2 separate regions of the Homo sapiens genome follow, and region 2 is linked to region 1. The links come from fine-mapping of genetic effects on gene expression. Tissue or cell type: subcutaneous fat. Region 1 holds a variant in brackets; the other region holds the start of a gene. All regions are shown on one strand. Distances are between the middles of the regions.

What was found. PIP is the estimated chance that this variant, and not a neighbour inherited with it, causes the effect.
Region 2: MICAL2 starts here. The variant in region 1 is fine-mapped to the expression of MICAL2 in subcutaneous fat (GTEx, PIP above 0.99).

What each region holds. Positions count from the first base shown.
Region 1 is chr11:12,050,940-12,059,045 of GRCh38, reverse strand. LINC02547 (long intergenic non-protein coding RNA 2547) reads right to left here. Exons shown (of 2, transcript NR_135109.1): 2 at 1-512. Among named protein-coding and RNA genes, the nearest start is that of LINC02547, 24 kb to the right of the region's middle. The variant G/T (reference allele first, on the strand shown) is at 4,764.
Region 2 is chr11:12,107,268-12,115,373 of GRCh38, reverse strand. It overlaps MICAL2 (microtubule associated monooxygenase, calponin and LIM domain containing 2), which reads right to left and starts at 4,784. Exons shown (of 28, transcript NM_001282663.2): 1 at 4,648-4,784. RefSeq lists an enhancer at 4,175-4,878 and a silencer at 4,421-5,090.

The sequences.
Region 1 (8,106 bases):
TTCTGAAGATCTTTTGAATTGTTACGTATGATTTGACTTCGTGGATTCCTTGGTTGCATAAATGCAAGGAATGACATTTTGAAATAGCCAAGATTCCTCCCCTCCTGTATTTCCTTCTTCTAGGACCCTTCGCCCAATCAGACGGCAGCTGGACTGAGCTGCTGCCATCACCTCAGGAAAGCCATGATGTAAGAGAAAAACACATGTGACTTTCAACTTTTCAGGTGGCAGAAAATCTATTTCTTCTCAGCGGGTATGACAGATTAAAGATGACTGTAAATTCTTCACCACTGCTCCCATTAGGAGGCGGGGTCCTTGCCCCTTCCTGCTGAAGCCAGGTGGGTTCTGTGACTGCTTGAGCGATGGAATAGGGCGGAAGTAATGCTATGCCAGTTGCCAGGCCCAAGACTAGAGACTGGCAGCTTCTGCCTCCTGTTTCCAGAGCCAGGCCCCTGGGCCTCCACGTAGGTGATCTGACTTCCCTGCAGCAGCCACACCGTGAGAATCCTGAGCTGCGTGGAGAAGCACCAGAGATCAGACCTCATGTGAAGAAAGGGCAGGAGGCCAAGGAGCACCCCTGGCACCCCAGACACGTGCATGAAAAGCCTCCTTCCAAGTGGATCCCTCGGCTCTCTCCAAACCCTTCCCAAACTCTTGACCCACACTGCTGCGACCAAAATAGGGTTGCTAGAGTTAGCAAATAGAACTACAGGATGTTCAGTTACATTTGAATTTTAGATCAACAAGGAATAATTTTTTAGTCTAGGTAGCTCTCAAATATTACATGGGATTGCATGGGACATATTTACACTAAAAAATTATACGTTATCTGAAATTCAAGTTTAACTCAGTTTAAATTTTTATCTGTGTAGTAGAGATAGAAGTTAATTTTTTAAGCTTGAAGATAAAATATTTACAGTATTTACAGGTAAAAGATTTGCAGTATTTTATCTGGCAAGCCTGGACCAAAATAATATGTATGTTTTATACCACTAAGTTTCAGCGTTTGTCATGCAACAATAGACAACTAGGATAGCGGGGACGGAAAGGAATCTGGAATAGCTGATACACCAACTGTGGAGGTATACAGTCTCTAGACAGAGCCATTTTTTTCACCCTTGGAAGCAAAAATAGAAATAAAAGACTTGGTGCCTCCTCCCCTTGCCTCCCTCTCCCAGGTTGAATCTCTTCCTGTGGGGTGGGACACACAGCGGCGCAGAGATGTAGGGAGTGACTTCAGAAAGCAGAGGGCAGCTGGGCCTTTCAGCGCGGCCAGTGGCCTTAGGGTGATGTCCCTGCATTCCAACAGGGCATGGAAATTCTGTTGCAGAGCCAGTGTGCCCAAAGAGGACTCAAGGCCAGGGTGAGGATGGAGGTGTGGACCATGACCCAGTAATGAACGGCAAGGAGGTCCTCTGTATTGGTCCGTTCTCACACTGCTGTAAAGACATTCCTGAAACTGTGTAACTTATTAAGAAAAGAGGCTTAATCAGCTCACGGTTCCATGGGCTGTACAGGCTTCTGCTTCTGGGGAGGCCTCAGCACACTTACCATCATGGCAGAAGGGGAAGGGGAAGCAGGCACATATTCACATGGCCGGCAGGAGAAAGAGAAAAGGGGAGGTGCTATGCACTTTTAAATAAGCAAATCTCAAGAGACCTCTATCACAAGACAGCCACAGGTGGATGGTGTTAAATCATTGGAAACCACCTCCATGATCCAGTCACCTCCCACCAGGCCCTACCTTCAACACTGGCGATTACAATTTGATATGAAATTTGGGTGGGGATACAGACCTAAACCATATCGCCCTTTCAGTGTGGACACCCTTCCACCACCTCACTCTCACCACCCCAGCATGGTTGGTACTAAACACCCTCCTTGGCCCTGGGAAAAAGCCAAGGCAGCCCTCACATGGATTGAGATTAATTTCCTTCATTCAGTGAGGTGTGTCTCAGAATAAAAACTCATCTCAGGTCATAGAAAATATGAAAGGTATGTTTCTAGCCCAAATGAGTTCATAATGTTTCTACCTGCCACAAACCATTTTATACCACACTGTAGTTATATTCAAATTGGACCAAAAAAATCTACATTTTTGTGCATTATTACTGACACCCCTAAATGCTCTTTCACATGCCATGTTCAGGCTTCCAAAGTCAGCTGAGGGACCATATCAAACAGTCACATGGCCATTGCAGGGCAGGCTGATTAAGAGCATGGACTCTGGGGCTAGACTGCCAGGCTCTGTCATCTAATGGCTGTGTGTCCTTGAGCTAATTACTTAACCTCCCTGGGCCTCCATTTCTTTAACTGTAAAATGGCAATAACAGTAATATTTACCCCAGAGCATTGCCATTAGAATGAAGCAAACCTGGCTTATGGTATGTGTTCATAAGTCTTAGCCATTGTTTTTTCTTAGAGCACTTACTTGGAGATAATATTTCTTATTAACTATCTAGTTATTGTTTGAGAGACTGGGTCTTGCTGTGTTACCCAACTGGTCTTGAACTCCTGGGCTCAAGCAATCTGCTCACCTCAGCCTCCCAAATATCTGGGACTACAGGTGCACACCACCATGCCCGGCTTCTTACTATTTTATAAAAACCAGCGGAAAATAGAAATGTAGAAATGCTGCTGCCTTTGAAAATCAAATTGTGACAAAGAGGAAATCATGCATACCAGAGGCAGGAAATCTTCATCCTCCAATGAATACCCTCTGGATTTGTCTGCCACCTGTAGGTCCAATTGTTAAGGAAAAAAAAAAAGATTAAAGAAAAACATACAAAATCTAGAGACACACTTGTCTCTAGCTATCAGTGCTCCACCTTGTCACCTCCACCACATTCACCATTTCTATGCACTCAAGCCTGGCCTCAGCTGCCTGCCTCTGGACTCGCCTCAGGACTCCCCCTGGCCCCTGGGGCCTACTGTGTGTGCTCTGCAGGACCACATTGTCAATAGGTAATTTGCTTAGTAAGTCATCTTTTACTGGCTCCCTTTCTTTTTTGGGGGGTGGGGGGCAGGGTTTCACTCTGTTGCCCAGATGGAGTGCAGTGGCGTGATCATGGCTCACAGCAGCCCCAGACTCCTGGGCTCAAGCAGTCCTCCTGCCTCAGCCTCCCAAAGCGCTGGAATTACAGGCATGAGCTACTGCACCCGGCTTATTATAGCTTTCTTTATTTCCTTTTCTTATTTTTTTTCCTCTCTCCTCTACCCTATCAGCATTTCTTGGAATCACCCCAAAAATAAACTACCTGCAATCAGATTTTTGTTTTAGATGTTACTTTTGGGAAAACACAAACTAAGACACATATTAAAGATTACATCTAAAAAGTTAGGCACAATCCAGTGATTTGATCCTGTCATTTGCAACAACATGGATGAACCTGGAGGACATTACACTAAGTGAAAAAAGTTAGGCACAGAAAGACAGTTGAACTGGCCCTCTGTACTCATGAGTACATCCTTGGATTCAACCAATGGTGGATTGAAAATGCAGTCAGGCCTATGAAGATTGTGACTTTTCTTGTCATTGTTCCCTAAACAATACAGCCTAACAGCTATATACGTTGTGTTAGGTATGATGAGTAATCTAAAGATGATATAAAGTTGGCCAGGCACAGTGGCTCATGCCTGTAACCTCAGTACTTTGGGAGGCCGAAGCGGGCGGATCACATGAGGCCAGGAGTTTGAGACCAGCCTGGCCAACATGGCGAAACTCTGTCTCTACTAAAAATACAAAAATTAGCGGGGTGTGATGGTGGGTGCCTGTAATCCCAGCTACTTGGGAGTCTGAGGCAAGAGAGTCACTTGAGCCCAGGAGGCAGAGTTTGCAGTGAGCCAAGATGGTGCCACTGCACTCCAGCCTGGGCAACAGAGTGAGACCCTGTCTTAAAAAAAAAAATACAAAACAAAACAAAATAAAGATGACGTAAAGTACACGGGAGGACGTGCACAGGTTATAGGCAAATACTATGCCATTTTATATAAGGGACTTGAGAGTCTGCAGAATTTGGTATCTGCAAAGATGGGGATGGTATGCGGGTTCCAGAATCAATCCTCCGAGGATACTGAGGGACAACTGTATTGCCTGATCCCATTTATATGTGGTAGCTGAAAAAGTCAAACTCAGAAGCAGAGAATAGAATAGTGGCTGTCAGGGGCTGGGTGGCAGGGGGAAAGGGGGGATATGGGGAGATGTTGGTGAAATAGTACAAAGTTTCAATTATACAGGATGAATAAACTCTGGAGAACTAACATACAGCATGGTGACTACAGTTATTAATACTGTATTGTATACTTGAAATTTGCTAAGAGGGTAGATCTTAAATGATCTCAACACACACAAAAAAATGGTAACTACGTGAGGTCATGGATATGTTCATTAGCTTGATTGTGGTGATCATTTTACCATGTTTCAAAATCTTTCTGTAACATCAAAACATTAAGCCATATACCTTAAATAGATATAATTTTTATTTGTCAATTATACCTCAATAAAGCTGGGAGGAAAATAATTAGTGATTTAATAATGTTTTTAATTTGGGGGGTGGGATATAAATATCTCTCATAACTTTAAATGTTACTGTCAGTTTTTTAAAATAAATTACATAAGTTTCAAACCTCTGACTTCTGGGCAGATTTCTAGGAACATAAAGGGCTGCTTGGGACTCAGTCACTCCTTCCCTTGATGGACACTTGGTTTATTTTCAACGGTTGCTAACACAATGCTGCAACCAACATCCTTTCGGCAAAATCTG[G/T]GCACACATCCTTGATCTCTTAAGCACAGATTCCCTAGAGGGAAATCACTATGTTGAAGGATGTGTATTTCTATTGCCAAACTGCTTATTCTCCCACTGCCTCCCTAGGCCTGGGTCAGAGTGTTTTCCCAGCTGAGTTCTCCACTTGCCTGTGTTCCTGGTTGAGGGGAAGGTAGCTAGTTCACAGGGCACACCCAGAGGGGACACCCAGGGGTGGCACAGGTCTGTGTCCAGTCCCAGCCAGGAGAGACTAAGGGTCACATGCAGGCTGACCCTGGGAACAAGGTTCAGGCCACTAGAGAATGGAAAGTTTATCTAGGGAAACCCAGGGTGGGGCTTCACCATGCAGATGGCAGCTGCAAAGGCTGGCTGGCCCATGCAGCACTTTTGTGCAAATTAGGAAAGGTTGTCCCTTCCTCAGGTTAAATAAGAAAGGTCAAGTTAGTATAAGCAGCCCTGGCTGTGTCCACACACACCACGGCCCACTCATGGCAGCAGCATGCACACACACACTGAGTGCCACCCTCCCCACCCCCCACAGCCCCTCCAGGTGAGGCAATCATGACAGATTCAGTCTTGGAGGTCTTGGAATCAGGCCTTAAAGGGTATCAAGCAGTTGGAGTGCAGATGGGACAGAGGCGCACAGGTGTGCAGAGTTTGTGCACACCCCCAAGTGCCACTGTGAATTTAGGCCAAAGGGTGCTCTCCCCAGCTACCTGCCTGGAGGCCTAGTCAATCTCCCGTCCAGTGTGCTCATGTAAATTAGCATGTCTACCATGTTGATGATAACCCTTAGATGTAGGTGCCCTTGAGCAGTGCTCAACCTGACTTCCTGAACATGGGCCACAAGGCACCATCCTTTCAAGGTCTATGAGCTACACCTGAGTGGCAAACCCCACCTGCTGGTGGGCTTCAGCTCCTCAAGCAAGACCTTCCAGCCCTGCTCAGCAGAAGCCCGGAGATGCAGCAGAGACTTCAGTGACTTCAACAGGCAGGGGCTGAGAAGGCAGGATCCACCCCAGACCACAGCATCTCCAGAAGTAGCTCCCTGGGCTCAGACCTGTCAATTAAAGGCATTGAAGATAAAAGAGGGAGGTTTCAGTAAGCAGCTGGGCAAGATGAAAGCCCAAGTGCTGTTTTATGGCCTCCTAATGGGAAGATTCGGATGCACCTTATTATGCCCAATCAAGTAATTATAATTACAGAAACCCGGGAGACTCAGAGGCGGCCTCCTGGCTTTGGCTTTCACTCCCAACCGGCCTTGACAAATCACGATTTCTCATCTCCTCGCCCACAGGAATCTAGGAACATGCTAATTGCCCCAGAGTTTGGCAGCAGGTCCCACCCACTCCTGGGCTAGACACCACGCACCTGCCCCTCCCCAGCCCAGGAGCCAGCGAGATCTAGCAGTGTGTGTCCAGCCAGAGCCTGGAAGCCAATGGGCAGAGCAGCCCCCGCCCTTCAGCCATGGGTAAACAGAGGGACACTAGGAGTGGGGGCGGCCACGGCTAGCGGGATGGCCAACTTGCAAGGGCCAGCTCGACTGCTGCTGCCTGCTGCACACACTGCATTTTGTTGATTTTATTGTTGTGCTCCCCCTATAAAAATATGAGCTCCATGAGGAAGGGTTGGTATTTGTTTCCCATTGCTGCTATAACGAGTCCCCGCAAACCAAACTTAGTGGCTTAAAACACAGAAATGTATTATCTTACAGTTCTGCAGGTCAGAAACCTGACTGTGCTCAAATCAAGGGCAGTGCTGTGTTCCTTTCTGGAGCCTACAGAGGGGACTCCAGTTCCTTGCTTTCTCCAGCTTCTACAGGCCGCTTGCTTTCCTTGGGTCGTGGCCTCTTCCTCCATCTTGGAAGAAGCCAGGAATCACATCACTTAGAACCCCGTGTCCATCCTCGCACCTCCTTCTCTGACTCTCCTGCCTCCCTCTTCTAAGAACCCTTGTGATTACGTTAGGCCCACCTGGATAATCCAAGGCACCCTCCCTCTCTCCCAGTCAGCTGATGAGCACCTTAATTCCACCTGCAACCTTAAGTCTCTCTTGCCACGTAACATCACATAGTCAGGATTGCAGGGATTAGGGCATGGACGTCTTTGGGGGCAGGGAGGATCATTATACCTACCACAGGGCTAGTGTCTCTTGTTCCCTGCTATAGCCCCAGTGACTGGAACAGTGCCTGGTTCATAGTGGGCCCTCAAGAAAGACGTGTTGAATAAATTCATGAATAAATACATGAATAACCATTAGGAATACTATTTAAGGCTGGGTACAGTGACTCACTCTTATAATCTCAGACCTTCGGGAAACCACGGTGGGAGGACTGTTTGAACCCAGGAGTTCGAGGCCAGCCTAGGCAACATAATGAGACTCCCAGTCTCTACAAAAAATAAAAAATAAAAAATTAGCCGGGTGTGGTGGGGTGCACCTCTAGTCCCAGCTATCTGGGAGGCTGAGGTAGAAGGATCGCTTGAGCCTGGGAGGTAGAGGCTGTAGTGAGCTATGATCACACCATTGCACGGGGTGAGACCCTGTCACACACAAAAAGAGTAAATTTAATATTATAGCAAACAGCTATCACGCTTACTAAGTGCCAGGCACTGTTCAAAGTGCTTTACAAATATTTACTCATTTAATCCCCAACAGTTCTATGACGTACATTTTGTTATTATCTGCATTCTACAGATGAGGAAATTAAGGCACCAAGGAGGAGCTCGCCCAAGGCGCCACAGCTAGTGAGTGGTGAAGCTGGGATTTGCTCTCACGTTTACCGAGCCTACCTATTATGCATCCGGCCCTGGCTGAGCATGTTACATTTCTGATCTCATTTCATCCTCAGAGAGGCCATAAGGGATGTGGGTGGAATAGGAACAGAATTAACAGGCACAGAATTAAGTCACTGGAGCAGCTGAGGAACTCTGAGAGATTCTGTGGCTCAGCTGGGGCAATGAATTGTGTATTGCTTTTTGAGCCTCCTTTGCTAATTAGACCAGGGCCCACCCCCGCAAGCAGACCACAGGTGTCTGGGTTCCCACCATGATGTGGGGCTCCTGCCTCAGCCCTTGCTCCCAGCTTCTGCCCCTAACCGTTGCAACTGGTGCCCAGGCCGCTGCAGATGGCAGCAGGCCATGACCTTCACCTGAAGCTGGACCTGGCAGGTCTGCCTCCAGGAAACCTCTTCCCCAAGGGACAGGAACTGGCTTCAAACCTCACCCAGAGCTCAAGTTGCTTTGCCCTTTTCACTGATGACAACCGTGGGGACCCCCATAGCTGGGCCCTATTCATATTTTGCACATCCTGGAGCTGTTTGCTCTCTACATGCTGGCCTCGGCCA
Region 2 (8,106 bases), 56 kb before region 1:
AAAGACACCTATCGAGGTGTCCAGCACCCCTAAGGACATCTGGTGAGAGAACCAGGTGTGAAGTCCATTACCAAGAGAAGAAGGTACATCTTCTCCTGCCCTCCTAAGCCTCCGGTCTCCTTCATTAGGTCACCCACAAATGTGCCAGTGGTGGTGCTAACTCTATAGAACAAATTCAGACAAGACACTTGAAGGTTATAAACACTTATTTTCCATCACGACCTGCCCCAGTTGTGGATGAATAGTGATTTGAAGAAGGCACCACAACTTGCCCAAGAGTAAGGCAGGTTAGAGAAGGCTCTGGAAGGCACAGGAGAAGCAGCACTGTCCAGAGACAGAAGGAAGAAGAAAAGATGAGTGGTCTCCACCAAGCCCAGGGCCAGGTTTCTGGGTCATAACATGGTCATTCCTGTGGCAGAATTCAAAGCTTGGACAGAAGTGACCTCAGTCTCCGTCAGCCCCACGTGTGACCTGTGGAGGCCGGTTGCTGATCAAGGCACAAACGCAGCTGTCTCGGCTCCCCACCACAAACCAGCACAGTGAGGGGGAGCAGCAGATAGTTCTTCTATTATTTTAGGATGTTTACAGACCGACGCGTGCTGAGGAAACGTCCACACGTAAGCAAGTCATTTTTTTAAAACCTCTTATCTAAGCACATGCACTGGTAGTCACACAAATCCGTGACTGGGTTCATCAATTCAAAGCACATTTCCTGAGTGGCTATGATACAACTGGACAAATGCTTATGGAGCCTCTGCGTGTCCCAGACACGGCGTTCAGTGCTGAGGATCCAGCACAGCCAAGAGGTGGGCTCGTCTTAAGGGGCTCCCTATGTAGTAGGGGAGATGGGCAGTTAACACAGAGGGTAATGGCTAAAGAGGGGGCGCTTCTCTAAACTAAAACCAGGCATAAAAGGACCAACGGCCTAATGCGGCATACCAACTGGATCCTCGTTCAAACAAACCAACTCTAAAGGTCATTTCTGACACAATCAAGGATATCTGCAGGTGGACAGGTGATGTCTAAGAAGCACAGTTAATTCTGTTACGTGCAGTAGTGAAGTGTGGTTATGCAAGACAACGTCCTTTTTAAAAGAGTTGTATACTGGATTATATAGAGGCCAAATGACATGACATTAGACATTTGCTTTAAAATATCTCAGGAATAAATATTCCTTTCAGAGGGGAAGGGAGAAAAAGAGAGAGAGGAAGCCAACCAGGCATAATCTCAATAACTGTGGAAGCTGGGTAATGAGTATATGGGGCTGATTATGCATTATGAGTTTGTGTATGTGAAAATGTTTGTAATATTTTTGAGAGAGGACTGCAATACATCCTGGTAGATACCCTCATGGACATAGCTCGCATAAAAGCTAAGGAAATACAGAGCAAAGAGCACAGAGGATTTGCAAAACCAGAAAATAAATCTGCCAAGTTTCTGAGTGTTTTAAATGCCATTTCATAGTGAGGTGAGAAGACATGTTCATAAATAATTACAATATAGGGTGAGAAAGGGTAAGTACTGTAGCCCCCCCTCATCTCAGGGAGATACATCCCAAGACCCCCAGTAAATGCCTGAAACCTTGGATAGTACCAAACCCTATATATGCTGTGTTTTTTTCTATACATACAGGAGCGATTAAGTTTTCTTTACAAATGAGGTACCTTAAGAGATTACAACATTAATGATAAAATAGAACAATTATAACAATATACTATAATAAAAGCGATGTAAATGTGGTCTCCGTCTCTCTCAAAATACTATAATATTTTCAGACCATGGCTGACTGTAACCGAAACCTCGAAAGGTGAAACCGCGGATAAGGGAGATGACTGCGCAGCAGAGGAGCTGTGCCTGCCAAGCCTCCAGAGTGCAGAGACAGCCACAGGCTTTTCCTGCTTCCCATAGCATTTAATTCTCCACACTCAAACTGCACTCATACATGCTGTGTGATGCAGGCAAGTTGTAACCTTTTTTGTTGTTGTTGTTACTAAAGACAGCAGTCTTGCTACGTTGCCCAAGGTGGCCTTGAACTCCTGGCCTCACATGATCCTCCTACCTCAGCCTCCAAAGTGCTGGTTTTACAGGCATGAGCCACCACACCCGGCCAAGTTGTAACCTTTCTGGGTCTCAGCTTCCTCACCTGTAAAATGCAGTTAACCCCACTTCTTTAGAGGCAGAATGAAACAATAGAATGATGTAAAGAATGAAACATCTCAGCATGATGAACAGTATTCTCTTCTCTGACTCTTTAAAGAATAGAGACTGTTAGCCCTCAGAGGACATCTAGGATCAGCAATGTTTAACCAAGTTATTCTTTTACCCTTACCACGTCCCGTCCTGCCAGAGCCAAGGCTTCCACCAAGAAGACAAGACCTCTATACTTCAGCAGTGGGAAGCAAAGGGGGCAGGCCCATGGCTGGGAGGCAAACCCAGGTGTGGGTGGAGAGAACAGAAACATACCCCAATTATAGGCAGAGAAGGAATCTGGGATCATATGGCTGCTCCTTGCAGCCTGGGAATGGGCCTCCAATGGCCACAGCCACAACCAGGCATAGTTCTTAAAAGCTGATTTATACTAAAGTATAATGGATTGGTATCAGTTTTCATGATTTTCATGACATCATGAAAATAAGTCATGAAAATCATGACTTATCATGATTTTCTTTTGAAAGAGGGGATGAGCAGAAAGCCAGAGCCCTAGGCCTAAAGGAAGAAGGGGCTGGAGATAAAAGTGATGTCATGTTTTTATAGAGGTATGTTCAAACTGGATTTCAATTACCCCACAACCATAACACTACACCCCAACACCTGCCCCCCCACCCCCAAAAGCCCCACGAAACTAGAATCAGTCCTAAGGTAGAGGTTATTTCAGCTAACACAGTCCTCCTAGACTATACCAGAAGCCAGCTTCTCAGAGGTGAGGCCAGGTCAATGGTAGAAGCAGGCTTCCTTCCAAAATAGCACCCAATCCCTCCCCATAGCAATCTGGCCAACACTATCCACTACTCTTGACTAGGGGGAGGATAAGGGGTTTGCAGGTTGAACAACTTGGCTAACCTGGGTCACTTCAACTGTTTTGCCAAAGAAGCATCCCCTGAAATCCTGGTGGAGAGCATCTTTTCAGAGGCTGGAAGGCTCTAGTCAGCACGCTGTGGGGCCATGGTCCTGCACACAGCACACCACTTCCCACAGCCATGAAACAAGAGCACTGGACTCACACTGACAGGGCCAGGACCTGGCTCAGACACTTGTTGTGTGACCTTGGGCACCTACCATACCTGAGCCTCTTTCCCCATCTCTAAAATGGGGAGGGCAAAACTCTCAGCGTTTTTGGAATAACCATGAAATTGGCTGCAAAAGTGCCACAAGACAGGACCTGTTGCCCAGTAGGCACTTAATAAGTCCGTCTTCTCTCTGCATGAAGAAAGTGAGTTCTTACGGTATTAGAGTCTCCAGGGCATTGCACAGGACTACCCTGGAGACCGGAGGCCCACTTGTTGGGTCGACTGCCACTGGGGAGGGGGAGCAGGACAGAGTAAGTGCAGGTGTCAGGGAACCTGGCACAAACACTGGAGGGCCAATTCGCCTCTGGCTTTTCTCCCGTGGGACCAGCCCACAAGGGGCCTGGCTGGTGACTTCATCCTTCACCAAAATCATTGTAGACTGTAGTTAACAGGCGACAATCACAGCAAGAGAGCCGGCACACTGCTGTAGGCCTGGCGGGGCCCTACAGGCTTCCAAATAAAAGCTCTTTCCGCTTTAAGAACCCAGGCCTCAGAATAAACAATGTGGAAGGAGGCACACTACTCTGGTTTCCACATCCCCTCATCCCCATCCAGTAAAGGCCGTTCCCAGCTCTGCCAGTGAGGCTGGCGGTGAATACAATTTACCCCACCTGCCCCGTCTGGCCCGGCAGCGGCTTAGACGCTGTGGGCAAGATCCCACCTCTCCCCGGGGCCAGCCAGGCACCTACAGGGTGGGTGCCGCGGACACCCTGCGGGGGTGCTCCTGGGCCTGGAGCGAGAGCGGGCTACTGGGGATGCGGGAGACGCGATGCAGAGCGGACAGTGCCGCGGCCCCTCGGACCACTGCCACGACCCCATCCCGACTGGGCTCCAGCCCGCGGCCAGCCAGGCCACTGACATTTGGCCCAACTTAACTTCCTGTTACTAAAGAGGGAGGGGACAGGGGAGGGGGAAAAGGGCGCCCAGTGAAGAGCTGGAACGGGGCGTGCAAGGCTCGGAGCCCCAATCCTGGGAAGTTTGGGGATGGTCTTCTGCCAGGTGACAGGCAGCACTGCAGGCGCGTCACTCCCACCCCGTTTTGGCGCTTGCGATTTTCTAGGCTTGGAACTGCAGGGTTTGGGTGTTGCGGAGCGGAGTAAGAGGTAGTTCGGCGTGCCGGTGGGAGGCTTTTATTGCGTTCTAATTGGTTCAGAGGCCGGCCAGGGCCGCCCCGGGCTTCGTCGCAGCGCCACCTGCTCACTGTGCGCCCCGCCGGGTGGGTTTGAGGCGGGGGATGCTGCGGCCGCACCTGACCCTCCCGGGCGTTGGACACGGCGCAGAGTCCAGCCGAGGCTGGCACGGTCCCCACCCGCGCCCGCCCGCCCTCCCCACCCTGAGGCCAGCGCCGCCCCCGCCTTACCGAAAGTCGCGCGGGCTGCCCGGCCCCGGGTCAGGCCTGCCTCGGCCCTGGCCGCGGGCGCAGCGATCGGGCCCCGCGGGCCACTGACAGAGCTGGGAGCGAGCGAGGCGGCCCGGCGCAGGCTTAGCCAGCCGAGCGCCTGCGGTTCTGCGCCGCGCGGTGGACCGGGCTGGGGAACGCCCCCGACAGCGGCGCGGCCAATGACAGGACAGCACGGAGCCCGCCCCGCCCCCGTGGGGCCGGCTGTCACCGCCGCTGCCGCCGGCGCACGTGGGCTGTAGCCCGGCCCAGAACGCAGGGAGTGGCCGGGCGCTCCCACCCTGACCCGCACAGGGCGGAGACCAGGGGAGGGCTGCTGGGAGTGGGGCGTGGTGGCGCTGCGAGATGAAACCCCCGGTGTTGGTAAGCGGGTATCAAGGGAGCGGCGAGGGCCTGGGCCTCACGCTTCTTGGTCTAGGCGGCTGGAAAGCAAGACACGGCATCCCCTTTTGGACATGGGGGAGCAGCATGGCACTTCTAGTACCGACTGTGTACGTCCTGTGGACCTCCCTCTTTGCTCGGCTCCTTGACCACCCTGAGCTTCCGCAAACCTCCTTGCTAGCTAATAGGATCTTCCCCTCACCTGGCCTTGCTTGGCTAAAGCTAGTGGGAAGGGGGCGGTGGTGCAGACTACCTGTGTTACCTTGGTCAGATCACCTAAACACCCTCTACCTTTGGCTGTCATATCCCTATCTTAATCTCTGCTCTGCCCACCTTCCCGGGTTACCCTTACCCCCCACAGCTCCAGAGAGCAACATTCACAGACAACACAGTGTGAATGGAGTGGGGCCTAGTGAGCAATCAGAAGCACTCTGTAGACTATAACTACTGTAAAACACCTTGTGTTTAAACGGCTCTTGTAGCAGTTATCATGAAATGGGGATCTCCATGGGCAGGAACCATGTCTGACTCACCTCTGGAACCCAGGGCCCATCACAGGGCTTGGCCCGGTGTAAGCATCAATAAGTGTTCTTGGAACTGAGCTACCTAGGCAGAGGAAAACAGGCAGGCTTGAGCAGTGAGAAACAGTATTGTGGCTCCAGGCTGCTGGAATTTCCCCAGCACAAGACCACCTCCAGGAGACACCATGTTCCCTTGCCAGACAAGTGCAAACAGAACAGTTTGCCTCCCCAAACCTGCAGATTATTATTATTTTTTCTCTACTCTACTTCTTGCCATGTGATCCTACTCTCAGCCCTTTGGTGTTTACCAGGTATTGTCCTACCTGGCAGCTCTCTTAGCTCTCTCTTCAGAATTCAATCAACTTCCTGTAGATGAACTTTCCAGCAAAAGCTGTTCCTACCCAGTTTGCAAGGCCCAGTCAGCTTGTACTCTCAGAGGGCCAGCACTCCACTCTGATGGAAATCTGCCTGTGATGCCAGCCTGGGGAGTGCCCTTCACACGTGATCTCATCTAAGCCTGGCTTGACAGGTATGTATTGTATCATCATCCCATTTCACAGATGTGGAAACTGAGACCAGTGAGGTAAAGCAACTGGTCAACATCACATGGTTAGTAAGTATCAGAGTCCGGATTTGAGCCAGATCTGGTTCCAGAATCTACATGCCTAAACACTATGTGCTGGGGCCTCTACAGCACTGCCCATGCCTCTAGGGTACTTGACAGGTCAAGTCTAACCCTGAAAGAGCTGCTCTAGGCCTGACCCACTCCCAGTCCATCCAAACAGTCTGTCAAGCTCAGGCCAGGGCACTGTAAGGGAGAGGAGACTCCACTGGCCTGGCCCTACCTTATTTAGAAGAGTGATACAGGAAACCCAAGGCAGTGAGGAGCTTCAGGAAGCAGTGTTACATCTGTCCCCACCTTAACTACACTGGACATAAAGCCTCTTGCTATTGGCCTGGACCTGAGACACCCATGTGGTGGATAGAGATGGAGACAGAGTCATTCATTCATTTAACAAACCCTACTCCGAACCAAATGTGGTTCCTGCACTCATGTAACTTATAATGCAACAGATGAATAATCAGAAGTACACAATGCTGTCCAGACATGGTGGCTCAGGCCTGTAATCCCAGCACTTGGGAGGCTGAGGTGGGCAGATCACCTGAGGTCAGGAGTTCAAGACCAGCCTGGCCAATATGGTGAAACCCCGTTTCTACTAAAAAACACAAAAAATCATCTGGGCATCATGGCACATGCCTATAATCCCAGCTACTCAGGGGGCTGAGGCAGGAGAATTGCTCGTACAGCGAGACTCCATCTCAAAAAAAAAAAAAAAAGGAAGAAGAGGAAGAAGAAGAAGAAGACCACAGTGCTTTGGGAGCTGTATTCTTTATTACTCTTTTTTTTTTTTTTACAGTTTTATCACCTTACCAATAGCACAACATTCTCCCTTCAGATTAAAACAAGCTTAATGCTATTTCAGGAGCACTGTGGGCCAACCAAGTTTAACAAAGATAGCATTGCTCAGCACAGAAGTTCAAGCAACTTAAAAATTAGAACTTACCAATGCATTCCCAGAACCTCTGCCTCCTCTCCCCTACCCTACTCCCAATCTTTTTAACTCAGGGGGCTCAGATAAGAAAGACTCTTGCTAGGTGGGTGCATCTGAGGGCTGAGAGGTGAGCTTTTCCTTGGACGCAGGGCAACCTGGGAACTGAGAAGGGTTAACTGCATGGAGGGAGATAAACCTGGGGACTTCTTGAGCCAGTGGCCAGAGCCACTCACCACCTCACACAAGCCACCCTTGCTGACCATCTTCCTGGAGAGAGAAGAGGAATGGGTTAAGGATGTCACAACTCACCTTCCTCTGGACTAAGCAGTCACCATGGGATGTCCTGCTGGGCTGTGACTATGTCTAGGAGTTATACAGCTCAGCTCTTCAAATGAAAGATCTAAAGTTAGGGCAAACTTTAGAGGAATATTTATCGAATCCCTTACCTAGCAGATGAAAGAAAAGAAGAGGCCAGGCATGGTGGCTCATGCCTGTAATCCCAGCACTTTGGAAAGCTGAGGTGGGTGGATCACTTGAGGTCAGGAGTTCAAGACCAGCATGGCCAACATGGTGAAACTCCGTCTCTACCAAAAATACAAAAATTAGCTGGGTGTGGTGGCACACGCCTGTAATCCCAGTTACTTGGGAGGCTGAGGCCAGAGAATTCTTGAACCCAGGAGGTGGAGGTTACAGTGAACCGAGATCACACCACTGCACTCCAACCTGGGCGACAGAGCAAGACTCTGTCTCAAAAATAGAAAAAAGAAAGAGAGAGAGAGAAAAAAGAAGAAGGAAGGGAGGGAGGGAGGGAGAGAAGGAGGGAAGGAGGGAGGGTAGAAAGAATAAGGAAGAAAGGAAGATAAAGAAAAGAAAAAGAGGCCGGGTACAGTGGCTCATGCCTATAATCCCAACAGTTTGGGAGGCCGAAGCAGGTGGATCACCTGAGGCTAGGAGTTTGAGACCAG